Regions from separate parts of the Homo sapiens genome. Here regions 1, 2, 3, 4, 6 and 7 are each reported to be linked to region 5. The links are microRNA targets in miRTarBase. Many come from high-throughput screens and were not tested one by one. Region 5 holds a microRNA gene; each other region holds the end of a gene's coding sequence.

Evidence for each region. Region 5 holds the annotated microRNA hsa-miR-8082 (UGAUGGAGCUGGGAAUACUCUG, at 1,995-2,016, opposite strand). A microRNA usually pairs through its seed, bases 2 to 8, with sites in the 3' UTR of a target mRNA and lowers its output. Matches are read on the target gene's strand: a 7mer-m8 pairs with bases 2 to 8, a 7mer-A1 pairs with bases 2 to 7 and ends in A, and an 8mer does both.
Region 1: the mRNA of ELMOD1 is a reported target of hsa-miR-8082. Seed matches in the 3' UTR shown: 7mer-m8 at 2,895-2,901.
Region 2: miRTarBase lists POFUT4 as a target of hsa-miR-8082. The part of its 3' UTR that is shown has no 7-base or 8-base seed match.
Region 3: miRTarBase lists SLC39A11 as a target of hsa-miR-8082. Seed matches in the 3' UTR shown: 8mer at 2,936-2,943.
Region 4: miRTarBase lists MCOLN2 as a target of hsa-miR-8082. The part of its 3' UTR that is shown has no 7-base or 8-base seed match.
Region 6: miRTarBase lists ZNF843 as a target of hsa-miR-8082. The part of its 3' UTR that is shown has no 7-base or 8-base seed match.
Region 7: miRTarBase lists STAR as a target of hsa-miR-8082. Seed matches in the 3' UTR shown: 7mer-m8 at 687-693 and 7mer-m8 at 1,536-1,542.

What each region holds. Positions count from the first base shown.
Region 1 is chr11:107,664,853-107,668,852 of GRCh38, reverse strand. It overlaps ELMOD1 (ELMO domain containing 1), which reads right to left. Exons shown (of 12, transcript NM_018712.4): 12 at 2,074-3,828. The coding sequence ends at 3,656. Among named protein-coding and RNA genes, the nearest start is that of SLN, 45 kb to the left of the region's middle.
Region 2 is chr10:73,774,839-73,779,086 of GRCh38, reverse strand. It overlaps POFUT4 (protein O-fucosyltransferase 4), which reads right to left. Exons shown (of 3, transcript NM_173540.3): 3 at 2,868-3,546. The coding sequence ends at 3,402. Among named protein-coding and RNA genes, the nearest start is that of POFUT4, 4.7 kb to the right of the region's middle.
Region 3 is chr17:72,644,206-72,648,497 of GRCh38, forward strand. SLC39A11 (solute carrier family 39 member 11) reads right to left here. Exons shown (of 10, transcript NM_139177.4): 10 at 1,744-3,457. The coding sequence ends at 3,379. It overlaps LOC105371887 (a long non-coding RNA gene), which reads left to right. Exons shown (of 4, transcript XR_934961.3): 4 at 1-260. Among named protein-coding and RNA genes, the nearest start is that of LINC00511, 5.9 kb to the left of the region's middle.
Region 4 is chr1:84,922,758-84,927,049 of GRCh38, forward strand. MCOLN2 (mucolipin TRP cation channel 2) reads right to left here. Exons shown (of 14, transcript NM_153259.4): 14 at 2,826-3,964. The coding sequence ends at 3,928. Among named protein-coding and RNA genes, the nearest start is that of LPAR3, 32 kb to the left of the region's middle.
Region 5 is chr4:113,150,308-113,154,307 of GRCh38, reverse strand. MIR8082 (microRNA 8082) reads right to left here and starts at 2,026; the gene lies at 1,946-2,026. All of the region lies in intron 1 of ANK2 (ankyrin 2), which reads right to left.
Region 6 is chr16:31,431,927-31,436,218 of GRCh38, forward strand. It overlaps ZNF843 (zinc finger protein 843), which reads right to left. Exons shown (of 2, transcript NM_001136509.3): 2 at 3,508-4,292. The coding sequence ends at 3,877. Among named protein-coding and RNA genes, the nearest start is that of COX6A2, 5.7 kb to the left of the region's middle. RefSeq lists an enhancer at 3,555-4,055.
Region 7 is chr8:38,140,869-38,144,868 of GRCh38, reverse strand. STAR (steroidogenic acute regulatory protein) reads left to right here. Exons shown (of 7, transcript NM_000349.3): 7 at 483-2,169. The coding sequence ends at 596. Among named protein-coding and RNA genes, the nearest start is that of STAR, 8.1 kb to the left of the region's middle.

The DNA.
Region 1 (4,000 bases), not on the chromosome of region 5:
TCTTGAGACCTTTGGCAATGTATTAAATTATCTAAGCCTGTTTGTCTAGAAAAACAAGTGCGCAGGCAAACAACAACCCATCTGATCCTGTGTGTTGTTAAGGAAATGAAATAATGCAAGGTAAGGACTAGCACCGTCCTGGCACATGGCATAAAAACCTGGTAAATGTGAGCTCTTGAAATGGAATCTGTACCAGAATCTCTTTCATCTTCTAGGACTTCATGTTATACTTGGTTCTGCTTTTCTGTCATTTTTTTCTCTAGATTAGAGCAGCTACCGTTGTTGAGCTCCCTGAAGAGTTAGAGGCATTGCTTTAATAGAGTCTGTGTCAGAAGGCTTAGTGGCTATGGGTCTAGCTGATATTTTCCTTTTTCTCTGCCCCCTTCCTCTTCTCTCCATCATCTGCCATCTCCTATCCTCATATTCCACCAACTCTGGTCCCCTCCTCACTCCCCTTCAATTTGGATCTGGCACCATATGTTTACGGATCAAGATAATTTGTTGCCATGGAGTTTGATTGCCTATTGCCAACTTAGGCCCCATCTATGCAGCTGAATTTCTCAGCTCAAACCAAGCCCATGCTTGTGATGGGTCTCTAAGATTTTGGGTAGTATCCTGGATATCAAAATGTCTATATCTGTATGATGTACTTCTCCTGCCAGAGGCTTGAAAGTAAAGAAATTGGGCTATATTTGCCTAATTAAGTTGTGGGTGGACAATCCTTATGTCTGTCTCTTGGTCTCTCTTGGCCACCTAACATCTCAGTTTTCTTAAACTGTCCCAGTTTACTCTGTTGTTCTAAAGAAACCATTAACAACATCCCCTTTCTCTCTCAACAGTGTTCTGTTTTGGAAGATATATTGTAAGGTCACCCTGTCTTTTGGGATTGGCATATATTTAAGCCTCTTTTCAAATATGGAAAAGATGGTGGGTTACCAGGCAAAAGTTTTTCAGCACAGTACAATAACAAGAACCGTGAGAAGGAAGGTCAGAGTCAAGTTTCAGAAACAGTGCTTCAGAAGGTTTTCTTTCTGTAGTGCAAACAGGAATGTGTTTTTATCATAGCAAGTAGTGCTTTGGAAGACTTGGAAGAGGCTTGCCGCACAATTGACATTTTATGTGGTCAACCCTTATTCAATGGAAAAGTATAAGCTAAAAATATTCAAGGGAAACACACACACACACACACACACACACTCCACATGTTGTTGATGCTTTTGAAACCTCTCCTCTTCTTTTTCTCACCTCACTTTGTGTGACTGGGTGGAATGCATCTTCCACAAAGTGGTGTGAATGAGAAATCTAATAATACTCAGAGCTCAAAGGAGCCGTCACAGCTTGTTCATCCTAAGATTGTGCAGCCATGTTCAAATACAATAGAAAGAAAGCATCCTAGGAGCTGAGAGGGGAAACTCTTAGCTTTGTTGGCGTCAACTATCTCTATCTGAACAGAAGAGACGCAAGCTGGTGTAAGTGCCACATGCTGTCAAGCCGTGACAGTGACATGGGACCACAATGGATAAAAAGAGACAATGAGCACATGTGGCTGCAAAGGCTGGACTGCATGTGGAATAATGCCTTCATCTACAGCAGCTGCAGCTACGGTGGAAATTCAGGGCTCCTCAGGCAGGCCTGAGGAACTAGGTTGACAAGTTCTCCCCTACTTGAGAGAGGAATATACATTCTTGTCATTACTCATGGTATCCACCATGTGCTAATCAACTCTTTCCCTTCCGCATTCTAAGAAGGGACACAGGACCATAAGAAAGGCAATGCAAAATGCTGCCACCTGGTACATGGCTGAAAGGGAAAGGATAATACAAACGCAGAAGGAAAGGATAATACAAACGCAGAAGGGAGAGAAAGGCCAAGAAAACAATGGGTAGTTAATGTTTCTGCTTTATCTAGCAACAGCCAAGCCAGGTTTCCTAGGAAGTTGTGAACCTGCTGACTCTGAATGATGGTGTGATTTATAGTCAGCTCCAGGTTGTCTGTCTTTGACATTCCATTCACTCACATATTTGCATATTCAGAAGCTGTACGAGCACAAAAATATTAATATGAAATCCAATATACGTTACAGTAGAATGACATGTAATTTATTCATATAACTGACAATTAGGCAGTACTCAAAATTCATTTAAATAAGCAAGTGGTTACACAAACATCTAATAATACTAAAATTGATAGTCAGAAGGTATAAAATACCATGGGTATGAAATGCCATGGTAAATACTATTCAACAGACTACAATCATAATTCCAAACTAAATCATGGTTTTTAAAATGATTTTTAGCAGTTCTGGAACAATTTGACTTTTCCCTTTCTAAGCAACTTACTTCTTCCACTGATACAAGACAAGGTCGTTATTTTCAAGAAATATCGCAGAGTGACTTAGCTTAGGTTGCTCTCTTGAAACACATTTTCTTGCAAATTGTTTTTTAATATTGCCCCTTGACATAGAAAACAAACTAGTCAGCACTTAGTTCCCCAAGCAAATATGCTTGGATCAGAACAGTGCCAGGGTGTAACCCAGTTCCGCAAGAGGCAGGCAGTGAAAAACCTTTTGCAGCTTTTGAAATATGCTTATTTCTTTTCTGAGGCTTCAAGCATCATACACTTAGGCATCCAAGCCAATGAAGTTATGGGAATAAAATAGTTTGATATACAGATGACTATGACACAATTGCAACTGGGGTGAGGGGAAGTTACAATATAATTTTGCAGTACTTCAAACAAAAACAGCTCCTACCTAAAGTTACTTCTTGTAAGCCTCATGAAGCATAGCTATGTTTGCAGGAACAGTTTGGCTTATCATGTGTCTGTCTGTACTATTTTATTTATTTATTTATTTATTTATTTATTTATTTATTTATTTATTTATTTATTTTTGAGATGGAGTCTTGCTCTGTCGCCAGGCTGGAGTGCAGTGGTATGATCTCGGCTCACTGTAACCTCCACCTCCCGGGTTCAAGCGATTCTCCTGCCTCAGCCTCCCGAGTAGCTGGGATTACAGGCACCCACCACCACGCCCAGCTAATTTTTGTTATTTTTAGTAGAGACGGGGTTTCACCATGTTGGCCAGGATGGTCTCGATCTCTTGACCTCGTGATCCGCCCGCCTCAGCTCCCCAAAGTGCTGGGATTACAGGTGTGAGCCACTGCGCCCGGCCCTGTTTTGTATTATTTTAAAGTCTTATACTTTATCAGAATGAGGTCCAAGCATGAACCTGGCTTGAAGAGCTAGCAGCAGTAGTCATGAAACATTTCAATAAATTAAAAGGCTTTCACAGAATGAGATTCAGCTAAACCTCTTACATACAAAATACAGCTAGAGAAATACAATTCTTTAATGCTGAATTATGAGGGAGAGGAAAAAAAGTCTAAAAAAATAGAAAACTCTCTCCATACCTGGGTATCAAGGCAAGATGTAACACTGCATAATGCCACAATATGAGCAGTCACTGGATGACAGATACTCCAGAAACAGTGGTCTCTGGGGATCTCGGAATTATGACCAAGAGATGAAAACACTGTACCAAAAGGCATGCATACAATCACTGTGTGCATTCAATGCGTGAGCTGCGACCTAAGCAGAGATCTAACAAGACAATGAGGCAGTGTTCCAGGGTATCCATTAAAACCGGCGTGGGCAACTACATGTTGATTAAACCTTCCGAGGCAGCAAAATGTGGGCACAGCGCCATGTCTGGGTTCTGCAGCTGTTTGATGATCCTCTTGCGGAATTTCTCCCTCACACGATTAAATTCCATTATGTCCATGGGGTCCTCTTCGATCCAAAACTTATGAAATTCATGCATCAAATAGCCTGTTGGAGACAATACAATGATAAGAATGCAGGAGAAAAAAAAATCCTTAATCACATTCAAAATCATTCTGAATGCTGAGGAAGATGCTGAACCAAGCCACAGCAACCGTGGAGCTCAAAGAAGACCTCAAAATCTAGAAAATACCACTGTTTAAGATTATTCTTTAAAATC
Region 2 (4,248 bases), not on the chromosome of region 5:
TTTTTTTTTTTTAGTTTCTGGAGTGCAGTGGCGATCCTCCCACTTCAGCCTCCCAAGTAGCTGGATCTACAAGGCACACACACCATGCCCAGCTAATTTTTTCTGTTTTTTGTAGAGATGGGGTTTTACCATGTTACCCAAGCTGGTCTTGAATCCCTGGGCTCAAGCGATCCTCCTACCTTGGCCTCCCAAAGTGCTGGGATCACAGGCATGAGCCACTGCACCCAGCCTGAAGGTCTGTCTTCCCTCTTGTTCTTTTCTGCAAAAGGTCAAACAGGGTAAGCAAACTTTCTGTAATTTATGAAGATCATCTTTTATTAAAGGACTAAATGAAAAAAGAACAACTTTGGCAATAAAATTCAGCCTAATTACAGCTTTTCTTGGCCGCATCCTTAGATGTCAGTATATTAAGTGTAGACCCTAGTTGTTGAAGCATCTAACATATATCTATCTATATAGGTAGATATATAGATATAGGTATAGATAATATTAAACTGTGGAACTTCTCTAGTGATAACTCACTAATACATTACAACTAGAGTAGCCCTAAGGTCCAAGGTATTCTTTCCTGTCCCACTGCCCCAGAAAGAGCTAATGGTCTCCCTGCTCATTAGACTGTATGTTCAAACCACAGCAACAGAAGGGTTTGGCTGCATCCCCAAATCTGACTAAGCTTTTTTTTTTTTTTTTTTTTTGGGATGGAGTTTCGCTCGTCACCCAGGCTGGAGTGCAATGGTGCGATCTCAGCTCACTGCAACCTCTGCCTCCCAGGTTCAAGCAATTCTCCTGCCTCAGCCTCCCAAGTAGCTGGGATTACAGGTGTGAGCCACCGTGCCCAGCTCTGACTAAGCTTTTATTTAGCCAGCCACTTGTGGCTTAAACCTCCTCATCCCCTTGAGTGGGCTCCATCAAAAAGTAGTCTCAGGCTGGGCACGGGGCTCACTCCTGTAATCCCAGCACTTTGGGAGGCCGAGGCGGGTGGGTCACTTGAGGTCAGGAGTCCGAGACCAGCCTGGCCAACATGGCAAAACCCTGTTTCTACTAAAACAAATACAAAAAAATTAGCCAGGCATGGTAGTGCGTGCCTGTAATCCCACCACTCTGGAGGCTGAGACACGAGAATTGCTTGAACCTGGGAGGCAGAGGCTGCAGTGAGCCAAAATCACGCCACTGCACTCTAGCCTTGGTGATGGAGTGAGACTCTGCCTCAAAAAAAAAAAAAAGGTGGGGGCACCTGGGCACGGTGGCTCACGCCTGTAATCCCAGGACTTTGGGAGGCCAAGGCAAGTGAATCACCTGAGCTCAGGAGTTCGACACCAGACTGGCCAACATGGTGAAACCCCATCTCTACTAAAAATACAAAAATTAGCTAGATGTGGTGACGGGCGCCTGTAATCCCCACTACTAGGGAGGCTGAGGCAGGAGAATCACTTGAACTGGGAATGCAGAGATTCTAGTAAGCTGAGATCGCGCCACTGCACTCCAGCCTGGGCAACAAGAGCGAAACTCCATCTCAAAAAAAAAAAAAAAGTCATAGGGAAGCGTATTAGTAATACAGTGAATGAAGCTGGACTATTCATTGCACTTAAAGTGAAAAGTGCTACAGATTATGAAATAATTACTAAAACATACAGCCACACTGTTTCCATAACTGCAGAAGATGGGACTTTGTAGCATATAAAAACAATAAAATAGAGGGAACACTTCATTAGGCAAACAAAAGAATTAGGACCTATAAAAATTTGCACTTTTTTTCCTGGATTTTTTTTTTTTTTTGTCAACCTACTCACCAAAAAATTTGCACTTTGACTCATATTGGCCTATTTTAACATTTCAAAATCATTTAAAGAAAAATATGACTTTTTCTGTCATAATTCCCAGTCTTAGTCTCTATCTTTGATCAAAAAGAGGATAGGGCAATACATTAAATTGACAAGGCATATAACAGCCACTGAATCTTTCTGTTCATGAGAAGAAATCCCAGATACACCATAAATGAGATGCAAACCAGCAGTAAGAATGATGGCAAGGTTTCTGTATTTCCATCAGAAATTGTGGAAAAGGGCCTAAAACCAGGAAAGACAAGGCCATTAAAAAAATGTATTTGAGGCCGGGTGCGGTGGCTGACACCTGTAATCCCAGCACTTTGGGAGGCCAAGGCGGGCGGATCACGAAGTCAAGAAATCGAGACTATCCTTGCCAACATGGCGAAACCCTGTCTCTACTAGAAATACAAAAAATTAGCTGGGCGTGGTGGTGCATGCCTGTAGTCCCAGCTACTCAGGAGGCTGAGGCAGGAGAATCGCTTGAACCAGGGAGGTGGAGGTTGCAGTGACCCGAGATCATGCCACTGCACTCCAGCTGGTGACAAAGCAAGACTCCATCTTAATATATATATATAATTTGAGACGGTGTCTCGCTCTGTCACCCAGGCTGGAGTGCAGTGATCATGATCATAGCTCATTGCAGCCTTAAATTCCTGGACTCAAGTGATCCTCCTGCCTCAACCTCCCAAGTATCTAGGGCTACAGGTGTGCACCACCATGCCCTGCTAATTCTTTTATTTTTTAGAGACAAGGTCTTGCTAGGATGGTCTCAAACTCCTGGCTTCAAGCAGTCGCCTCTCCTCGGCCTCCCAAAGTGTTGGGATTACAGGCATAAGCCACTACGCCTGGCCAGAAAAAGCCAAAAAAAAAAAAAAAATTAGGGCTGGGTGAGGTGGCTGATGCCTGTAAACCCAGCACTCTGGGAGGTCAAGGCGGATGGATTGCTTGATCCAGGAGTTGGAGACCAACCTGGGCAATGTGGCAAAACCTCATCTCTACAAAAAATATTTTAAAAAAATAAATAAATAAGTAAAATAGAAGTTTGACATGAAAGTATATAATATAAAAAAATCCAACTCCGGAAAACCAGAATACAACTCACCAAATGTTTTGCTTCTCCACCAACGTAACAATTTATAAAGCAAGAGATGAGAAAAAGAGATTATTGGGAAATGTACTGAATAATGAGGAGTCTGGGGAATAGAACAAAAGTTGTAAGTCGTAACCTGACCCATCTTACTTCACTGGTAATCAAGTACAGTCGAAAGGATGAAATAAAGAAGTGAGTAGTTTAAAAACTCTGTTGGACCAGCACCTTGAATCAAATGGATGTTTTAGGGTTCTGTTTCCCACTGAACCAAGAATTGTATCCCTCCATCTCTCCTTGAGGAGAGGCCCTATGTTAGACCTTGGCTACTCATCATTAAGATAAAATCTTAATAGATAAAACTGGAATTCCTTGAATCCATGAAAAGACAGTGTTCATTAAGGGTTTGTGCAGTGGATGCTCCTTATGTCCCATGGTAGAATAAGATCTCCTTAGCTCCGCCAAGTTAAAGGCTCTTGCAAGGGCACTTAGAGATGTTGCCTCTTCATGAAGATTTCATGTAGGTAATCCCAAAATTTCGTCTGCTCTGTTTCATTGTTGTGGATCATGGCAGTGAGAGCTTCCCCCTGGTCCAGACCTTGCCAATAATCTTGCAGCCACATCTCTTTCCAACTGAAATATCAAAATGGGGGTTGGATTATGGAACTGCAGCATAGTTATGAGTCCTGCCTTTTTCCGAGTGGGGCCAAAGAAATCTTAAGCAGATACAGTGGTCTCTAACTTGGACAAGACTGCTGTGAAAGGAAGACAAAGTGAAGTAAATCCAATATAAGCCCAAGCGACAGGCAGTAAGTCACAAACACAAAGACATCACACAGACTACCCAATCAATTACGATTCCTGACTTGCCTGCTTCTGGCTCCCAAATGTGGAGGGGGTTCAGAGGCAGGCAAAGCAGAGGCCAGACTGGAAGTGGCAGTCTCCATAAGGAAAGCAAGGGGGCAGGGGTCTTTAGATGATTATCTTTTAAGTTTCACCTTTATGCCAATAATCAAAATGAAGGTGCATCAAAATGAAGTAGCATCCAGTATCTAGAAAAGACATAACCTGAATATTTATTTTCTTAATGTTTCATATTTTTTCATACTTTTCCTCTAGTAAATCATATTATGTTCAGATACAAACAATTTGTAATTAGATACAAATTACTTGGTGAAGGATTCCAACCATCAGGACAAAACTGCCAGCAGCATCTGTTAATAAATGGCCTTCTGCTGCCATCCACTGTCCAAGTCGGTTTCTATAGGCCATTCTAGCAGCCTTACTTCAGCTTAATAATCTTATCACCTCTCCCCCAATAGGTGTGGCTTGCTA
Region 3 (4,292 bases), not on the chromosome of region 5:
CTTGTTTGTTCTGAACTAGGGAACATCACGTGGTGCCGTTTCTCCCACAGCCAGACTAAACAGGTCTGGAGGAAGGGGAAGTAGGCACGGTGCAACTTCCATCTTACTTAATGACTCTCACTCTCTTCAACTTTTTTTCCACCAATTAGCGATTTTATTCCCAGGAAAGGAAGGTTGCACCATTGAGGCAGCTGACCGTTGGGGTGGCTCCCTTTGGAAAGGGGATATAAAGTGTTTGTATGAGTGATGGTTCCATTAAAGCAGACATTTTTTAAAAAGGTGAAATTTGGGGAATTAGAGTGAATATAGATGTTGAACAGAAAAAGAGTGATATAGCAATAGTCTGGACATGTGGGCTGGCCACCTGGAATTTCACATGCCATTAGGTCAAAAAAGTGGGTTGACAAGGCTGGCTGCAGTGACTAGTCCTGGGAAAATGCTGCTATACCACGGGAGACAGGCCAGGGTGGAGGCTATGAATGAAACTCAAGTGGTTCTCTCAGGAGCCGCCTCCTCCTCCTCCTCCAGCGGTGGGAGTTAAGGGAAGACTGTTACCATCATGCATATGGGCAGGGCCTCCTTGGTCTCTGTGCCCTTAGGAAAGAGGAATAGGGTCACGGCTAGTAGGTCACACCCCAGTCATCTAAGGTACTGGCTGAAGACAGCATGGACTTGGAATGGAAACTGGAAGCGGGAAACCTAAACATCATCCAGGGTCTCTTCTCTAGGGCAGGAAATGGGTGCTGTAGCTTCTACTTGTACTTCCTGTGTTGTGTGTATCCTATTTTAACTCATTGCCTCTCTTTCCTCTCCCGTTATTCGTTTTATTGTATATGGGATGAACGGTTATGGTTAACTTTACACTTCAGCTCAAAGATACAGAATAATGAGATGGGCTTGTTATCCCACGGAGGTGGGGTATCCATTACTCACAGACCTTGAGTACAGGAGTTGAAAGACATTGGGGTAACCCCGTTGGAAAGGGAATGAAAGAAGTTTTGATTGTATGAGGAATAGCTACATATTTTAAGCAAGAGTTTTTTCTTTAAGTAAAACTAGAGGAATTAGAGTATATGTTGATATTGAACAGCAAAAGAGTAAGGCTGTAATGAACTTAATAGACCCTTTTTTTTTTTTCTATTTTGGCTCTGCACCATATGAACTCATTCCCAAATTTGGAAAATCCACTATTTTGCGAGTCTTGGGAAGGGGCAAGATCAGCTAGTTCATGGGCACAGGATCTAAGCTCTGGCAGCTGGATGTTCTGATCTAGAACTTCGAATGTGGAGCCAGGACACAAAGAATCCAGCTCAGTGTAGAGTTTGTTCTTGTGGCGGCAGTGGTGGTGGCATCAAGGTACAGCAGTTTCATTAGTGGTGTCCAGGATCTAGGGACCAGCTCTGGGGACCATGGCATCTAAACCAAGCTGTTCTCCAGGTGTGATTGGGTCATGGCCCCAGACCTCTGGCTTTCTTGGATCCAACCCATTTTCAAGCCCGATTCTCCGAAAGAGCCTGTGAATTCCCTAACAGGCTTCCACTCATTTCCTTTTCTGTTTAAGTAAGCTGCTGTTGGATGCTGTTGTTGCAACCAAGAATCTGACTAGCCCTTCCCATCTGAGCTCTTTCCTTTGCCTCTCCTAGTGTTGGATCAGGGAGGTGTTAGTTCCAACTTTAGTTAGCTCTTTTATGATCATCCTTGCAAAGAAGCAGCTTTGAGAAGTACTGAACGTAACACAGGTCATCCACAACATCCCCTTTTTATTGATATTAATCACAGTTATGAGGTCTTGTCCATCAGAAAGCACAATTTGCATTATGTAGAACTACATACAAAGACATAAAAATAAAACATACATACACCAACCACCACACCAGTTAATCTCAACCAATCAAACCTCTGAATGTGTCTTCAATTTTGATCATCAGTGCTTCGGAAGAACGTACATAGACCCAGCCCAAGGTTGGCCTTTGGGGTCTGATAGCATTCACAGAGCAGGAGATTCACCCTTGGAAGCAATTGAATGTGTAAACTCTGAGAGCAGACACTGACAATGCAATGCCTGCATACCTGACTCCTGGGCTGCCTTCCTTCTCAGCAGAGCCCACTGAAAGTCTCACGTGTGCCTTTAACCAATGAGGATGGCAGGCCTTATCTGTGTTTGAAGTGGACAGGTCATTGCTACCCCTGTTGGAGAAGCTATGTAAGAAGGAGTAGGCTGGCTTCTGGTCTAGTTCGACTCATTCTTTATAGGGACATTTCAGAATGATGAGTTGGCTAAAATTTACTTTAAAGGGGAAATGTAAAATTACCTCTTCTTTTCCTATCCCCTTCTTCCTTTCCCATCCTGAGCCCTCTGGCAAGGCCTGTTGCAGCTCAAGAGTTTTTGTCAGATTATAAGTTACCAAATGGTCAACAGGGAAGGACCCACAGCAGATTCCAAAACTCTTTCATTCACTTGAGTTAACTGAAATGGCTCCTTCTTTGAGTAATTGAAGAGTTTGAGTTCTAGCAGTTTGCTGGTGTCTCCAAGTCTCTTAGAAACATGATGGCTATAAACTTATCAAAATAAATGCCTAAGAAATTTGGAAAGCGCGACAAATGGCCTTGCTCCTGGAATCCATTGACAGCAGAGGCCTCCGAACAAACCCACACTCTGTCTGTCTCTTCTTTCCACAGGGCTCACTGTGAGTTCACAGTTGTCCTCATCCCCTTTCCTTCAATAATGTCAATCTTTGCCTTTAAAAAAAAAAAAAAAAAAAGCCAGACTAGCCAATTTCCTTCCCTTTTTCTGTGTCCCCCTCCCATGTAGTATCTCCTTAGGGGGAGGTAAAGGAAGACATGCTCCTCTCTGGGCTGGCTCGGCCTTGGAAGGTAGCTTGCTATCTTTATGATGCTCCAGTTCCAACATTCTAGATGGGGAGAGGCTCAGCAGTGATGGAGCAGGAGGGGCGGATGAGAGGTGTGCTGGCCACTCTGCCCTGAGTCACTAGGCCACCAAAATGCTTAGGAGACGTCTTTTGGTAGCTCGCTTCTATAGGTGACCTTGAGGAGTTGGGAGGCAGATAGAAGGTCCCGAAGTGGAGATTTCCCTGATCTGAAGTTCCTTGATAATCCCACTGAAGAGAGAGTCCATTCAGTGGCCAAAACAAAGAATCTGTATTTCCATGACACCTTAAAATTCCCCATTAAATCAAAAATCTCCCTCAAAGCAAAGTAAAAATGGTTCTATTATAATCAGAGTCAATCAGGATAATGAGATGAAGAAGAGAGGAAGGAAAAAAGTTTTAATGTGAAGAAAGAAGCTTGTTGTCCCATAGAAGCCAACCACTGCTGTTTCTTCGTATGGCCTTTCCCGGGGTCCGAAGCGTCTCAGCCCTAGCCCAGGCCAACGTCCAGTGACATCATCACTACAAATCCCAGGATGGAGGCCCAGGATGCCAGTTTCCCATTACCACTGGAAGAGAAGGACAGGAAGAAAAGTAAGACCTTAATGATCCCTGAGGCCACGGCTAGGCTGAAGGCATCCTCTGCAATGTCCAATTCCAAGAGAAAGCACACTACCATTAATAATGGTAACATTTACTGGGGCTTACTATGTGCCAGGCAAACTAATGAACCATGGAACCCCAAACAACAACCTCATGAGGTCAGTATCATAATTATCCTCATTTTACTGGTGGGGAAACTGAGGCAAAGAGAAGTTACTTGCCCAAGGTCACCTATGATCGTTCTGTGGTCCATGTGTGAGTAATGAAGAGGGGTGATTATTTCTTAAAGATATTACTTAATCTGGCCTTTTAAACTAGCCTCAGAGTTATTCTTCTATAAAAACCAAAATAGGCTGGGAGCAGTGGCTCAAGCCTGTAATCCCAGCACTTTGAGAGGCCGAGGCAGGCAGATCACCTGAGGTCAGGAGTTTGAGACCAGCCTGGCTAACATGGCGAAACCCCGTCTCTACTATAAATACAAAAATTAGCTGGGCGTAGTGGTGGTTGCCTGTAGTCCCAGCTACTTGGGAGGCTGAGGCATGAGAATCACTTGAACCTGGGGGGCGGAGGTTGCAGTGAGCCGAGATCACACCACTGCACTCCAGCCTGGGTGACAGAGCGAGACTCTGCCATTAAAAAAAAAAAAAAAAAGAAAAACAAAACAAAACAAAACAACAACAAAATGGAACAAAGCAAACCCTTACTCCCACCTTCTGACACCTGGCCTATAGCTAGCCAGTGAAGACATGCATGTATCACCTTCACTGACATTTTAGAGCTCACCTCTCCCTTCATTCCAGC
Region 4 (4,292 bases), not on the chromosome of region 5:
AGCCACCACACCCGGCCAGTGCTGGGCCATTTTTACATGAAGGTCCACAGGGACAAGAGGGCGACTGGCTACCCCTAGATCAAAAGGCTGGGCTATTGTGCTTTTCATAAACCCATGATTCCAAGCGTGGTCTTCCACTGGATCAGTGTACCCTTTTTACAATTGTTGGAGTGTAGGTCCTCAGCAGGAGTGGGGGACAGTGCCTCGAATCGCACGAAGAGCTTTTCCTAACTACCCTCTCTCACTCTTTTGCATTCACCACTTTGAGTCAGCAATGGGTTGAGAAGGAAGTGGGCCTGAATTTTATACATTCTGACAAGTTTGGTTAAGGGGGTAGTCCTAGTAGAGGACTGAGGGTCTCACCCAGGGTGAAGGACTGAGGCTTTGTGACAGCTTGTGCACCTCCTGGACCTTTTCTCTTCCATCAGGACTGACAGCTGTGCCCCAGCCATTTAGGCTGCTTCTCCTTGCTGCTCCTCTATGGCTAGGTGTGAGCTTCTTAGGGCTGAACTGATCATTGCCTCCAGGACAGGACTGGATGGGGGACTTTTGCACACTTAAAGTTCTAACTAGAACAAAGTCCACCAGAAGTGTGTGGTGAGTGCATTATAAAATAAAAATCTTCCTGGCTGGCCCAGATGAACAGATTTGTACATTTGTAGACCATGTTAGTAAGACATGTTTTTTGAAGAGCTAATAGTCATTGAGCACTTAGGAGTCACGCCCTATTCTATGCACTTTACGTTTGACTCATTCAATCCTCATAATCCCATTTTATGGATGAGGAAATCTATGCATGGCATGACCTGTCCAAGGAGACTCAGGTAGCAGTAGGAAGAGGACAGCTGAGGCAGACAGGTTGCAGAAGCAAAGTCGTGTCTGCATTATTCCATGGTCCCATGGAAACTATTGCAAACATGTTAGAGAATCAAAGGGAAATAACAGCTCAGGAATGAATTCAATACCAGGCTCTGCATAAATTATGTGACTTAAGTGCCAGTCTTGGTTGAGGTTTATCATCACTTAGAGGAAGAAAGTAACTTGTTCAGGGCCTTAAAGTTAGGTTAAGCTGGAATTTTAACTCAAGTCTGTCTAGATGGCTCTTATGCCCACACTCTCTCCTACCAGCTCAAGTGAAAAAGCTTTAAGATGTTGTATATGGTTTTGACTGTGTCACCACAAGCCAAGGAGTTAAATTCAAGGGTTGGAGATCCCAGAATGAAACCAGCAGGCAGAAAGAATGTGTCTCCTAACTTTCACAGGGAACCCTCTAAGTGGAGGCCTATGATAAGAGAGAAAATGATTTATCCCAGATGCATCTATTAGCAGAATTATGAGACAACATTGTTCAATAAAATCCAAATAACAATACAGTTGATAAAGTGACAATTGTTTAACATTATTAAAAAGGGAGAAAACAATGTTTCTATAGATGTGAGCTAACCCTGAAAAACATTTTTCTTTCTAAAACTGTTTTGTCCAGCTGGAGGGAAAATAAATAAAAGAAAACATGAAAGCCAATAGAAGAATAATATGAGCATGAAAACCCATCATTAATCTTCTATTCAAATGGCAGTCACAGCTGCAGAACAAATGAAAGCTTTTTTTTTTTTTTTTTTTTGAGATGGAGTCTCACTTTGTCACCCAGACTAGAGTGCAGTGGCCGGATCTTGGCTCGCTGCAACCTCCGCCTCCCGGATTCAAGCGATTCTCCTGCCTCAGCCTCCTGAGTATCTGGGACTACAGGCGCCTGCCACCACACCCAGCTAATTTTTGTATTTTTAGTAGATACAGGGTTTCACCATGTTAATAGCAATTCTTGGGTTGGGCGTGGTGGCTCACGCCTATAATCCCAACACTTTGGCAGGCCAAGGCGGGCGTACACGAGGTCAGGAGATCAAGACCATCCTGGCCAATATGGTGAAACCCTATCTCTACTAAAAAAATACAAAAAATTAGCCAGGTGTGGCGGTGCATGTCTGTAGTCCCAGCTACTCAGGAGGCTGAGGCAGGGGACTCGCTTGAACCTGGGGGGCAAAGGATGCAGTGAGCCAAGATCATGACACTGCACTCTAGCCTGGCAACAGGGCAAGACTCTGTTTAAAAAAAAAAAAAAAGAGAGAAAGAAAAAAAATAGCAGTTCTTTTCAGAGACAAAACTAAGTATATGACAATATACTCAGAAGTTAACAAGTGGTCCAATTACGTATCTGATTCTTGGGTCAGGCAAATGACCCCAGAACCACCAGTTTAATGGTGTCTTAGTTTAAAAATCAAACATAACTCTTCACATATCTTGTAAAAAAGAAAGTTTAAAATAATTTTAGCAAAGTACTCTGTGTGTAGACATGAGTCATCTACTCTCTTATATACTTTAATGGTATTAACTGCATGATTTTCCCTGCCTATAGTTGGTGCAGGCATATGAAGATGGGGTCAGAGCAAGGAGGGGGAAGGTGACATGAGAAGGAAAATTGGGTAGGGGCTTGTGGGGAGGGCGACTGAGGCCAAGGAGAAAGAGGAAGAGCCCTGGAAGGAGGGTCCTGCTTAATTCAAATTCTCCTCTTCACCAATAACTTTAAATAGTTGGCCACTGAGATAGCTCAGGTATGAAATAAGTCTATGCATGAAGTGATCTTCATCTCTCAAGCTATCATCATAAATATTTATTGAATAACTTCTATATCTTAGCCCCTGTATATCCTTCACTGCTTTTAAGAAATTGGGAAATCCCTTTTGGAGACCAAGTGGTTAAGAGAGATGTGATCTGAATGTTTCATTAGGTAGTTGTTTAGAGACAATGCATAAAATAGTAAGAATGCCATATGGAATGATGAAAATAAATTTATTTAGAGAAAATATATCATATTTCTTTTCTAGACAAAGGTAAATACCCAACCCAGCAGAGTTCAATTGTTAAAATGAGTGACCGCTGCTACAGGTCACTTCCACATGTCATGTGTGTACAACTGACCATTAGCACAAGTGACGAGGCAGCCAAATGATTCCATTTCTTATTTATCCCACTGGCTATGCCAACAGTTGCTTCATATCATGCTGAAGAAAACCCACAGGAAAACAGGCCAAGAAATGTCCACTGCATGAGCATGAGGTCTTTTTGTTGATTTAAGGGTGATTTTTTTTTTTTTTTGAGACAGGATCTCACTCTGTCACCCAGGCTGGAGTGTAGTGGCACGATCATGGCTCATGGCAGCCTCCACCTCCAGAGCTCAGGTGATCCTCCCACTTCAGCTTCCCAAGTAGCTGGGACTACAGATGCCTGCCATCACGCCCGACTAATTTTTGTACTTTTTGTAGAGGTGGGTTTTTGCCATGTTGCCCAGGCTGGTCTCAAGCTCCTGAGCTCAGTCTGCCTGCCTAGGCCTCCCAAAGTGCTGGGATTACAGGTGTGAACCACTGTGCCAGGCCAAGGGTGATCTTTAAACAGCTTAATAGTTCACCAGCTTGGACTCTCTAGATTGGTATTGCAACCAGCTTCATTTCTGTACAGACCATGAATTAACAAATGTCTTCAAACCCAAGAATCACCTTTAAAACAAATCCTTATTTGACAATAAACACACATATTTAATTACATGGTTAAAGACTATTATTTCGCACACTCTGAAATGATCTTTTTCCATTCCGAGATCATGTCATAAATTAACAGACTAATAGAGAATTTTATTATCGCTGTTATATTGCACTAATGCCCAGTAGTAGCCCATGGTCTATTCTTTATCATTCAAGTTTATAAAAAGTAAAGCTGGAACTTCAGTCATGGTCAGCTGGCTAACTGTGAGTCCTCTTTCCCACTCCACAATTAAATAAGAGAGTCATTTTGGAACTGCTTGTCCAAGTCATTTGGGGTTCCTCTGCTCAGCCGCTGGATAAGGATGCCTGAACTTTAATCATCTTTAGCAGAACTTTAGCTAATAGGTATCAAGTGATCATCACTTCTTTTCCTGTAACAGAAAGGGAAAGAAGAAAAGAGGAAAGATACAATACTTTAACATCTTTGAGGAGCAATAGGAATACTCTATATTCTAGGCCCGTAGATTATAGACATGTTGAGTGAAACATAGAAGAGGAAGAAAAATTAAGACAGGCAAGGTATTCTGATTATTTACCAACATTCAGAAAAAATAAGTAAATAAATAAATAAAGGCAATGTACACTGTTTGAGGTTTGAGCAGATGCTTTTGGAAACACTGTGAGGAGTCACCTGTCTCTTAAGAACCTCCATGCCCCCAGGGAGGGGAACATCGCACACGGGGAAATGTTGGGGGGTAG
Region 5 (4,000 bases):
GACAAGGTTAAACAATGAATAAAAGGACTCTATATAGGTACACAGTAATTATTAGTTTTTGGAAGTGAAACTTAAATTTATTCTAAGTGTTATGGTTTAAAACTTTATGGTGATACAGCACAGATATTTTCTTACTTTTAAGGTGATGCATATGAAATGCAGAAGGGCCCATTTGCTGGCAGAGTATCCTCCATTCCCACATGTCCCATGTGGTCTCAGCTACTTTAATTGCCTCTAAATAGAATTTTGGCAATACATTGAATTAACCTGGATAAGAAGAAGCTTAATAAAATGTGAAGGGTTTCTTCTACTTTTATGCTCTTATGTGCTGATGTTACATATTCAGCCCTGACTCTTCAGTAAAGTCAGCCTCTTGCAACACAAAGCAGTGGTTATCATACTTAAGTGCACTTAAGGGTTACTTAGAGACTATGCTTAATCTTGTTAAATAAATATTCTTGGCTCTCACCTCTGAGATTTTAACTCAGGAGGTCTGGAGTAAAGCTCAGCCATCTACATCATTTAAAAACACACCAGGCGATTCTTCTGATGTGGTAGTTCACAGAGTACACTTTGGGAGGCGCTGACATAAAGGATTAACTAGACTTTTCATACTGTGTGTTTATTACACAATCCCAAATACAGTTTATCCTATGTCATCATTAATCATCTAGTCTGTCAAAATGTATGCTGTAAGAATGCATAAAAAGCTGAATATCATAAGCCATTTTTTAAAAGAAATGATTATGTATTATAGATGGTATAGACAAATCTGTGAAATATATACCTTACTAATATAAAATTGTTAAATGTCTTTTATTCCTGAAAAATACTCTTTTTCTTTTGTAACTCTGGGGAAAAGTTCATATGTAACAACCAGTGGTTTTCAAAAAGGAAAGATTTTCACAAATTTTTCTATGTACTTCTGTTTTACTAGGTATCTTAGAAGATGCTTTCTAATATCCTTCAGAAAGCCAATAATCTAGAAAGGTATGACACAAAAGTAGCAAATATAAAGGTACTTCAGCTCTAGTTCTAATATATTATTTGTGACTTGTGAGAGATCCAATTTAAGTACACAATGTGTTTATTTAATAGAGTTGCTGTACTAGAATATGGAAATTCCTACAGTATCAAACAGAATCTATGATTTACTTCAAAGCCCCCTTTTGGAACTCATTGATGACTGAGGAAGGTAAAGAGTACAGAAAAAAAAAAAGACTGAAATTTAAATAAACTGTATGTCAGCAACACTTAAACTCATCAAAAACACAGTTTCAATTTATAATCTCTACTATTACACAGCTGGCTTTCACATAGCTTTAAGAAACAATTCATTAGCTCAAAGCCACCATTGAAATTATTATACTTCTGTCAATCATTGTAAGATTTTTACTATTTTTTTTTGAGACAGCATCTTGCCCTGTCACCTAGGCTGGAGTGCAGTGGTACAATCAAGGCTCACTGTACCCTCAATTTCCTGGCCTGAAGAGTTCCTCCCAGCTCAGCCTCCCAAATAGCTGGGTCCACAGGTGCACACCATCAAACTTAAAAAAAAATTAATATAGAGACAGAATCTCCCTGTGTTGCCCAGGTTGATCTCAAACTCCTGGGCACAAGTGATCCTCCTGCCTCAGCCTCCCAAATTGCTGGAATTACACGTATACTTCTTATAAGGAAGTATTAAAGAAAGGCACAAAAAAGTTTTACTATAGTCACATAAGCCCACACAAATATGATATGAAGGTCAGCTTTGAAAAATCAAACACGTAAAATTTTGACAATCAAATGTGATATAATATGCCTAAGATTTCACAGAGAAACCCTTAAATAAAAATAAAGAATTCAGGAAACAAGTCAATCTATCTTGTGGCATAATAAGTTTTGATTAAAGGGGCATAAAATCCAAAACAGCAACTAAAAGTGAGTAAGAGGCACAGCAGATGTCTGTGTGGGAAGGAAGCAAAATACAGCTGAAAAGAGGACTCTCTCCCCAGAGTATTCCCAGCTCCATCATCACACAGGCGACCTTGAAAAAGCCACTATAGGGACAGTGGAACTAATCTTATTAAATATAGCAGAAGAGATATTATTCAAAAGTTATTACATAGTTCAAGTAAATACAAATACTTGGTTTGGATATACCTCATTATAAAAAAAATAAATAGATAATGCTTAACATTACAATGTAATCTTTCTTTCCTTCTTTTTTCTTTTTTTTTTTTTTTCTTTTTTTTTTTTTGAGACAGAGACTTGCTCTGTCACCCAGGCTGGAGTGCAGTGGTGTAATCTTGGCTCACTGCAATCTCCACCTCCTAGGCTCAAGTGATCCTCCCACCTCAGCCCCCCAGTAGCTGGAATTACAGATGTGTGCCAGCACACCTAGTAATTTTTTTTTTTTTTTTTGTAGAGATGGGGTTTCACTATGTTTCCCAGGGGGTCTTGAACTCCTGGGCTTAAGTGATCCTCCCACCTCAGCCTCCCAAAGTGCTGAGATTACAGGTGTGAGCCATGGTGCCCAGCCTACCTTCACCAAATTTCTTTAAAATGTAACCATTGCATTTTATGTACAACTTGATATAGAGAATAACAATTCAAGAAAATGTCTACTACTTTCTATAGTAAATATGTTTTATACATATATTTTATACCAATGCTGTGGTTTCCATATTTGACTCTGCAAACCTCAAGTTGAAATGTGATCCCCAATATTGGAGGCAGAGCCTAATAAAAGGTGTTTAGATCATGAGGGTGGACCCTCATGAATGGCTTAGTGCCATTCTGGTGATAAGGAGTGAGTTTTTGCTGTATTAGTTCCTATGAGAGTTCCCCTGATGGCTGATCATTAACAAGAGCCTGGCACCTCCCCCTGGTTTCTGTACACACCAGCTCTCCTACCCTTTCCTCCGTGAGTGGAAGCTTCCTGAAGCCCTCACCAAAAGCAGATGCTGGTGCAATGCTTCTTGTACAGCTTGCAGAACTGTGATCCAAATAAACCTCTTTTCTTTATAAATTACCCAGCTTCGGGTATTCTTTTGTAGCTACACAAATGAACTACGACAACAAGTAATGTGTGCAATTGCAGTAAGGGTACATTCCTTTTTTGAGCAGAAGGTTATAATTAAAACTTCTTAGTTACCAACGTCTTTACTGTTTTTAGAAGTGTTTTTTTGCTTCCATCACCTTTTCAATGTTGGCGGCCTCTGGTTTCATCTGGGGGCATGTCACCTGTAGTGGGAAAATTCCCATAAATAGATTTGCTACTTTGGGTGATTTCCTAGTCATTAATTCATTCATTTTTTTCACAAATATTTACTAAGTACCTATTAGCTGGTAGGAACTTCAAAGAAAATAGAGCTTATGATATGCAGACTACAACCTAATTGATTCTCCTAAAACAGCCTTTGGTCAATGGCCTTTCACTAGTATATAGTTCAAATTCTAAATCTTGACTTATGAATCTCTTGATAATCTTAGCCTATGTGCCTCATCTAAATTTTGGGGGTTCCACAAATGTCCAGTAGAAATGGTATTATAGCCATTGCTTTCCAGTCTTTCTAATGAGTCCAATACTGAGTGTGTGAACTTCCCATAATGCTTCAGGACTTAACTTTTCTGCCACCCTCTGAGGCTGAGTTGTCATCCTGAAGTACTCTATAATCCCCTGTGCTTTCTCAGGACATGGGAACACAATATTCAAAGTCCTGCTTTGGCCATCCCTGGATTACACTCCTTCAAGCCAAGTTTGCATGTCCTACTCATCTTGGTAGGCCCATGCCTGGCTGAATACATGCTTACTGAAGGCACAAGTGTACTTTCTTCCCAACAGGAACCCAGATTGTATTTTGCTCCCAAGATCTGCTTCAGGCTCCACCTTCTCCACTGGCAGGATGGATATTAAAAATATTTAACAACTAGTTCAGCTCAGGCACCAACCACTCCCAATGGACACTGGCCACAGCACTAGAGGAGGGTGGTCCTGGAAGCCCCTTGAGAGTCC
Region 6 (4,292 bases), not on the chromosome of region 5:
CCACTGTGCTCAGCTAATTTTTTAATTTTTTGTAGAGATGGGTCTCACTGTGTTGCCCAGGCTGGGATGATTGTTGTAGGGAGGGGCACAAGTCCATGAGTTCCAATTTTCAGGCCTGTCTCTTGGACTGTTGAAACACAATTATACTTCAACTGGACTTGGAGCTGCTGGAGCCTCAGGCTGGGGCCTTCAATTGAAGCCAATATTGAAGCCATTTTCAGAGCAGACCTGAAAAATGGGAGATCTAGCCTTGTTAATATTATGTGAATCCCTGAGTCAAGATGTGCCGGAATTGAGAAAGAGCTGAACTCTTAAGACTTTTCAGTTATGTGAAATAACAAATCCCCTATTCGTAAAAGCCAGTTAGAAATGGGGCTTTAAGTCCTAATTTATTGTTAAACATTTTTTATGAAGCTATACCACATCTCTAAACTTTTACCAGCACATTTCTGATTTCTGTTCCCCTGTACTGTGATCCATATTTTATTGAAGTTTTGGGGCTTCTTTTGTAGAAATGATAGAAATGTATTTAATAAACATTCTGGAGTATGCATGCCTTTAATGAATTAAACCTCATAGGCACTTGATATGAAGGGATTTAATGTTTGTGAAAATGAAGTGAGACAAATAAATTACACATTGAGATACAGCCCAAGTTGCTAAATGTTTAAAGGTTGAGGCTTGTAATTTTATTTTCTTCCATTTCATAATAGTGTAGTGACACATCACAATACATCTCTACACTGTGACTTGATTTCTCCCGAATCTGTGTCTGATGCTGGGAACACTGATGTTCTGGCTGAATCCATGACACTTGCACACTTGTGCTCAGTTTGCCTCATGACTGGGGTCACTCCAGCCAAGGCTGCAAACTAGGACAGAGTTTGAAACTGGTGCTCCCCTGCGAGACCTTTACTTCACATATTACAGAACCAGGACCACTAGGCCAGCTGGTCTATAAAGAGCGCCTAAAATGGCAACCTATTAATCTCAGATTTTTTTTTAGATGGAGTCTCACTGTGTTGCCCAGGCTAGAGTGCAGTGGTGCGATCTCAGCTCACTGCAGCCTCAGCCTCCTGAGTAGCTGGAATTGTAGATGTGTGCCATCACGCCCAGCTAATTTTTGCATTTTTAGTAGAGATGGGGTTTCACTATAATCTCACCATCTGAAATTATGGCCAGACTGGTCTTGAACTCCTGACTTCAGGTGATCCACCTGCCTCAGCCTCCCAAAATGTTGGGATTACCAGCGTGAGCTACCGTGCCTGACCATAATCTCAGATATTTTCTAAACCAGTATTTTGCCACCAGTAAATGCTGATTATTAAAAATACACTCAAAGGCCTTTTTGTCCTATGACTGATGCTGCTGAAAATTTGATGTAACCATCTTGGCAATTTGTGGTAATCTCATTTCTACAAATGTGTGGAGGAGATGCACGAGACCCGAGTAAATAATATTGTTTTCAGTTGCTTTTTTCTGTTATCACTATAGACATAACCGTGGAATCATCGAATGACAGGCACAGTAACCAGGAAGACATAGATTGATTGGGTGGGGTCACCTTCATAGTCACCTTGGCTAACTTTCCAATTATGTACACATTGTATCTTGGGAGGACAACAAGGATGAAAGAAACCCAAGTTTTAGCATAGAATACTTGAGCAGCTGGAAGTGGTTCCTTCACATAAGTAATATTAATTGAGCACCCACTGTGAGCCAGGCCCTGCACCAGGGTCTCTGCTCTCGTGGAGCTCAGTCTGCTGGGGAGATAGGTTACCAGACAGACATGCCCTATGTTCTTAATGCCACTGGAGCACTCACCACGTCAGGTGTGACACGAGAGGTGGGGCAGTCTCTAAGTGGAAGTGGGGCTCATATGAATGAGTAGGGCAAGTCTGGGAGACAGAAAAGGGGAAAGGTCATTTTGGGCAGTGGAAAGAAATAAATCAAGTGCAAAGACACAGAGGTGCAGGAGGCCCTGGCCAGCAAAGGCACAGAGGTCAGGCGAAGCCCAATGGAGAAGCATGCATGCCACGCTAAAGCATTTGAACCCTGTTCTGTAGGCCCTGCTGGGGTCAGCGGAGGGGGTGGAGGGGTGGGAGTGGCAGGCAGGAGATCCTTTCAGGCAGGAGACTGACATCAGATTTAGTGTTGGAGTCTGGAGTCTGAGGGAGGAATCTATAATAACTGGTAGGTTCTATGGATGCTGAACCAGAATGCAGAGGCGGGAAGCAGGGGAGATTGGCTAGGAGTCTTCTGCAACAGTCCAGGCTCATGATGACAGGACTTGCACCTGTGAGAGAGCACAGGCCACAGAGGGCACGGGGTGCTGTCGAAAAACTCTTCTGAGGTACAACAAGTAGACGGCAGTGCCTGATACTACTTGGATTGGGAGAAAGAGGCATCAAGGACTGAGGTAGCAAGCTTGGAACTGAACCAGTAATGCTACCACAGACTTTCATGCAGTTTAAATTCTCATAGGGTAACTTTTCTTCCTCACTCTAATAGCACATCATTAAGACAACCAACAAACCAACAAACACTTTTTTTTTTTTTTTTTTTTTGATTCGGAGTCTCGCTGTCGCCCAGGCTGGAGTGCAGTGGCGCGATCTCGGCTCACTGCAAGCTCCGCCTCCCGGGTTCACGCCATTCGCCATTCTCCCGCCTCAGCCTCCAGCTTGGCTGGGACTACAGGAGCCCGCCACCATGCCCGGCTAATTTTTTTGTATTTTTTTTAGTAGAGACGGGGTTTCACCGTGTTAGCCAGGCTGGTCTCGATCTCCTGACCTCGTGATCCGCCCTCCTCTGCCTCCCAAAGTGCTGGGATTACAGGCGTGAGCCACCACGCCCAGCCGACAACTAACAAACACTTTTAAAAATACTTATCTAAAAAGCACAAGAGAGGCTGGGTGCGGTGGCTCATGCCTATAATCCCACCACTTTGGGAGGCTGAGGTGGGCGGATCACCTGAGGTCAGGAGTTCGAGACCAGCCTGGCCAGCATGGTCAAACCCCCTCTCTACTAAAAATACAAAAATTAGCTGGGCGTGGTGGTGGGCGCCTGTAATCCCAGCTACTCAGGAGGCTGAGGTAGAAGAATCGCTTGAACCCGGGAGATGGAGGTTGCAGTGAGCAGAGATCATGCCACTGCACTGCAGCCTAGGCAAAAGAGCACGATTCCGTCTCAAGAAAAAAAAAAAAGGAGAGAGAAATAATCACTAATATTAAGATAACACAATATTATTCCTGTCCACACCAAGAATATACCTTGTATATTATTGTTACTTCGATAATATACCTTGTATATTATTGTTACTTCGATAATATACCTTTGCCTACTACCTACCTAAATCCTTTTGTTATTTTAGTTATTTTAGAGAGACAGGGTCTCACTCTGTCTCTCACGCTGGGGTGCAGTGGCCTGATCATAGTTCACTGCAGCCTTGAACTCTCCAACTCAAGCGATCCTTCCGCCTCACCCTCCTGAGTAGCTGGGACTACAGGCCAGCGCCACCACACCAGCTCGTTTTATTTTTATTTCACAGAGATGCGGTCTCGCTAGGCTGCCCAGGCTAGTCTCAAATTCTTCGGGCTCACGCGATCCTCCCACCTCGGTCTCTTAAAGCGCTGGGATTACAGGTGTGAGTCACCGCCCGCAGCCGCACCTGCCTAAATCCCTTAATGTATAAGGGAAAGGAGCGAGAATTCAGGGGAAAAAAAACAAACAAAATAGCCCCCAGCACTTCTGAGAAAGATCTGCCATACAGAAAAGCCGTCCTGAGCGGGTCTGTGTGGAGGGAGGGGACTGCATCTCAGATCCACAGTCCACCGGCGGCTGCAACAATTCCACCCAGGGCTGCAGCACGCTGGTTCTTCAGTGTCGGGCCAGGTTGGACCTCCGGCTGGAGGCCTTCCACACCGGAAACACTGGTAGGGCTCCTCTCCAGTGTGGGTTCGAGGGCGGTGGAGGAGCTCGGCACTGTCGCTGAAGCCTGGCCCTGGCCTCGCCGAGCGGTCCGGCCGCTCTGTGCTGCGAGGCCTTCCGGGCTGGCTCAGGGTAGCCTGGGGCCTGAACCGCCTCCCGCGAGTCCCGTCCCGCGCTCGCACAGCTTCTGGGCCCCATCGCCCCCTCCTGCTGAGCTGCCGGCTGGGTGGCTGGCGGAACCTGGGCAACTTCCAGGCCTCCCAGAGGCACTGCAGGCACTGCGGGAAGGCCGGATGGAACCAGAGGCTGGAGACTGAGTGGGGGGCCAGGATAAAGGAAGGGAGGTCGGGGCAGGAGTGTGGATG
Region 7 (4,000 bases), not on the chromosome of region 5:
CATGGCTAATTTTTGTATTTTTAGTAGAGACGGGGTTTCACTATGGTGGCCAGGCTGGTCTCAAACTCCTGACCTCGTGATCTGCCTGCCTCCAAAAGTGCTGGGATTACAGGCGTGAGCCACTGCGCCTGGCCCTCTTCTGTCTCACAGCAAAGTTCAACTCTTATATGTAGTTATCATTTTAGAAAGAAGGAAACTTAGGTCCAGAGATCTGAAGGGTGAAAAAGGCAACATAACTGGTTCAGGGTCACACAGCTGGGAACACCAGGCTGAAACATCTTGTTGGCCAGTCTTGTGCTTCTGAAAGTCATGACAGCAGAGGAGCAATGCAGTCCTCCCGCCCTTGACTGGGCAACTCCAAGGCTGCACCTATTAACAGAGCTCGAAGACCAAGCCCCTGGCAGCCTGTTTGTGATAGGGTGCAGTGTCAAGAGTGGGCCAAAACCCACAAGATGGCCAAATTCTCCTACCTCCTACTGCAGGGGTGGCTGCCCAAGAGCATCATCAACCAGGTCCTGTCCCAGACCCAGGTGGATTTTGCCAACCACCTGCGCAAGCGCCTGGAGTCCCACCCTGCCTCTGAAGCCAGGTGTTGAAGACCAGCCTGCTGTTCCCAACTGTGCCCAGCTGCACTGGTACACACGCTCATCAGGAGAATCCCTACTGGAAGCCTGCAAGTCTAAGATCTCCATCTGGTGACAGTGGGATGGGTGGGGTTCGTGTTTAGAGTATGACACTAGGATTCAGATTGGTGAAAGTTTTTAGTACCAAGAAAACAGGGATGAGGCTCTTGGATTAAAAGGTAACTTCATTCACTGATTAGCTATGACATGAGGGTTCAGGCCCCTAAAATAATTGTAAAACTTTTTTTCTGGGCCCTTATGTACCCACCTAAAACCATCTTTAAAATGCTAGTGGCTGATATGGGTGTGGGGGATGCTAACCACAGGGCCTGAGAAGTCTTGCTTTATGGGCTCAAGAATGCCATGCGCTGGCAGTACATGTGCACAAAGCAGAATCTCAGAGGGTCTCCTGCAGCCCTCTGCTCCTCCCGGCCGCTGCACAGCAACACCACAGAACAAGCAGCACCCCACAGTGGGTGCCTTCCAGAAATATAGTCCAAGCTTTCTCTGTGGAAAAAGACAAAACTCATTAGTAGACATGTTTCCCTATTGCTTTCATAGGCACCAGTCAGAATAAAGAATCATAATTCACACAAACATCAGTCTTTGTTTTAATATTGTACTGTTAAAAAAATCTATGCAGCTGGGTGCAGTGGCTCACGCCTGTAATCCCAGCATTTTGGGAGGCTGAGGTAGGCGGATCACAAGGTCAGGAGATCGAGACCATCCTGGCCAACATGGTGAAACCCCGTCTCTACTAAAATACAAAAAATTAGCTGGGTGTGGTGGCGCAAACCTGTAGTCGTAGCTACTTGGGAGGCTGAGGCAGGGGAATCACTTGAACCCCGGAGGCGGAGGTTGTAGTGGGCCGAGATTGTGCCACTGCGCTCCAGCGTGGGCGACAGAGTGAGACTCCATCTCAAAAAAAAAAAAAAAAAAATCTATGCTAGTAGATTACAACTTCACACTAGAGGAGTTCTGGACAAAGCTTTTAATTAGTCAAACTAAATTAAGGCTCATTAAAAGGAAAGGAACTACTGGGAAATTATGCAATTCAATAATTTAGACTCTGTTACCAGGATCTTTCATAAAAATTTAATTTCCATAATCATAACCTAAATGAGTTCTTAAAGAATTCTATAAGCAATAGCTGATTAATGGGCCCTGGAAGATGAAGATTATAACTGTTTATTTACCTAATTAAAAGGAAAGGCAGTGCCAAATATGAGAGGATAAACAATATTAGTTAACATTTCTGTTATTTATGATGCCAATTAGTAGTAAGATAATTCCACAGCTGTCAACTTTGTTTGGGGCTGGCAACTTCTCTGCTTAAACAGGCTAAAAGTTTAGTATTCTGGGAGAAGTGGCTGGAAGAAGGGGTAATATGGTGAAAGCAAATTCCCTTTCCCAGGAGTCAAGAGAATTTATGTGAGGTGGCTCCCGCCTGTAATCTCAGCACTTTGGGAGGCCAAGGCAGGCAATCACCTGAGGGCAGGAGACCAGCCTGACTAACATGGAGAAACCCCATCTCTACTAAAAATACAAAATGAGCTGGGCGTGGTGGTGCATGCCTGTAATCCCAGCTACTTGGGAGGCTGAGGCAGGAGAATCGCCTGAACCCGGGAGGCGGAGGTTGAAGTGAGCCAAGATCGAGCCACTGTACTCCAGCCTGGGCGACAGAGCGAGGCTGTCTTAAAAAAAAAAAAAAAATTATACACACACACACACACACACACACACACACACACACATTGGGATGGGAGGGGGGTAGGGAGGATGAAAAAATCACCATTACCACCTGAAGCTTTTCCATTCTTGTTTTAATAGCATTGATGATTTGCACCATTTGGAGATAGAGCTCTGGCTTATTTATTATAAAACAGGAGCTGGGCACAGTGGTGCCTACCCACAATGCCAGCTACTCTGAAGGCTGAGGTGGGAGAATTGCTGGAGGGCAATTCGAAACCAGTCTGGGCAAGATAGTGAGACCTCATCTCAAAAAAAAAAAAAGAAGGAAAAAACAAAGGAGTTGATGAAACCAAATTATGACAAACTAAATTAAAAAATTAAAAAATAGCATTAGTGGGAACACTGTGGTATTTCCTGAGGTATTAAAATTTTACAACTAGTAAAGGTATTTATTATAATTTATTCGGATTGTTTCTTAGTTTATTTTTGACATGGATAAAATTATTGTTTATCTAGGAGCCTCAGAGTTGAGAGAGGATAGTTGTAGAGAAGTATTTCTAAAATGGAATTATCATCCACTACCAGCTAAGAGAAAATAGTTACTTGTTTAAAGATACCTTAAAGCAACATATATTGTAGTTTCAAGAGAACAGGCTGACAGTCAAGAAATAGGCTTTTAACAAACCCACTGGTTTGCTGGATTCTAATTGCCTCCTTCAAACTATGTAATTGTGTCTTTCTGGTTTCTGTGGAGATATTTTCCCACTTGTTTAATTTTACACTGGAATAAAACAAGTTATCACTGTTGATCTGATTACAGAAACTATTTTATATAGGACGCTGTGAAGAGTAGATATTCTCTGAGCCCTTCAAATGAACTGTATTAAAACACACACACACTTTTGAAGTTTGAGAAGAACATCATTACCTGTAACCTTTGATTTGTGAAAATATATACAAAAAGCTAATTTTATAATTTAGATGGAGAGTGTGTATACAACTTATATGTGGTAATTTATATTACAAAGAGTTAACATTCAGCTTCCTCTAAATAACACCACCCTCATTTTCTTGGAGTACCTCAAACTCCGATGATCTAGAAGCTTTATAACCAGGTCTGCCCTTGAAGACTAGTTCACGCATTAATAGGTGTCTAGGGCTGAGCCTCAGCCTCCAATCACACTCGACCTGTATAGGCTTTCCTGTTCAGAGATATGCAGTGGCCAAATCAAAGTGTCTGGGTGATTCATCGGGAGACAAATATATTAATCAATGCTACTATGTTAAAATACCAATATTGTCTTGAAGTGTGGGAACTCTCTTAAACAGGAAAATGATAAGATATTCAGAAGAGCCACAGGCATAACATGGTGATTCTGCAGCAGCATGTCACCCTCCAGTGGTGAGCCACTCTACTTATTAACCGAGGTAGAGAGGTAAATGCAGGAGGGACTTTGGGCAATCCTGGGAGGGCTGTCTTTGCCGTAAGACTGATGTATTGAAAAAAGGAAGACAGGCCGGGTGTGGTGGCTCATGCCTGTAATCCCAGCACTTTGGGAAGCCGAGGTGGGCAGATCATGAGGTCAGGAGATCGAGATCATCCTGGCTAACACAATGAAACCCCGTCTCTACTAAAAATACGAAAAAAAATTAACCAGGTGTGTTGGCACGTGCCTGTAGTCCCA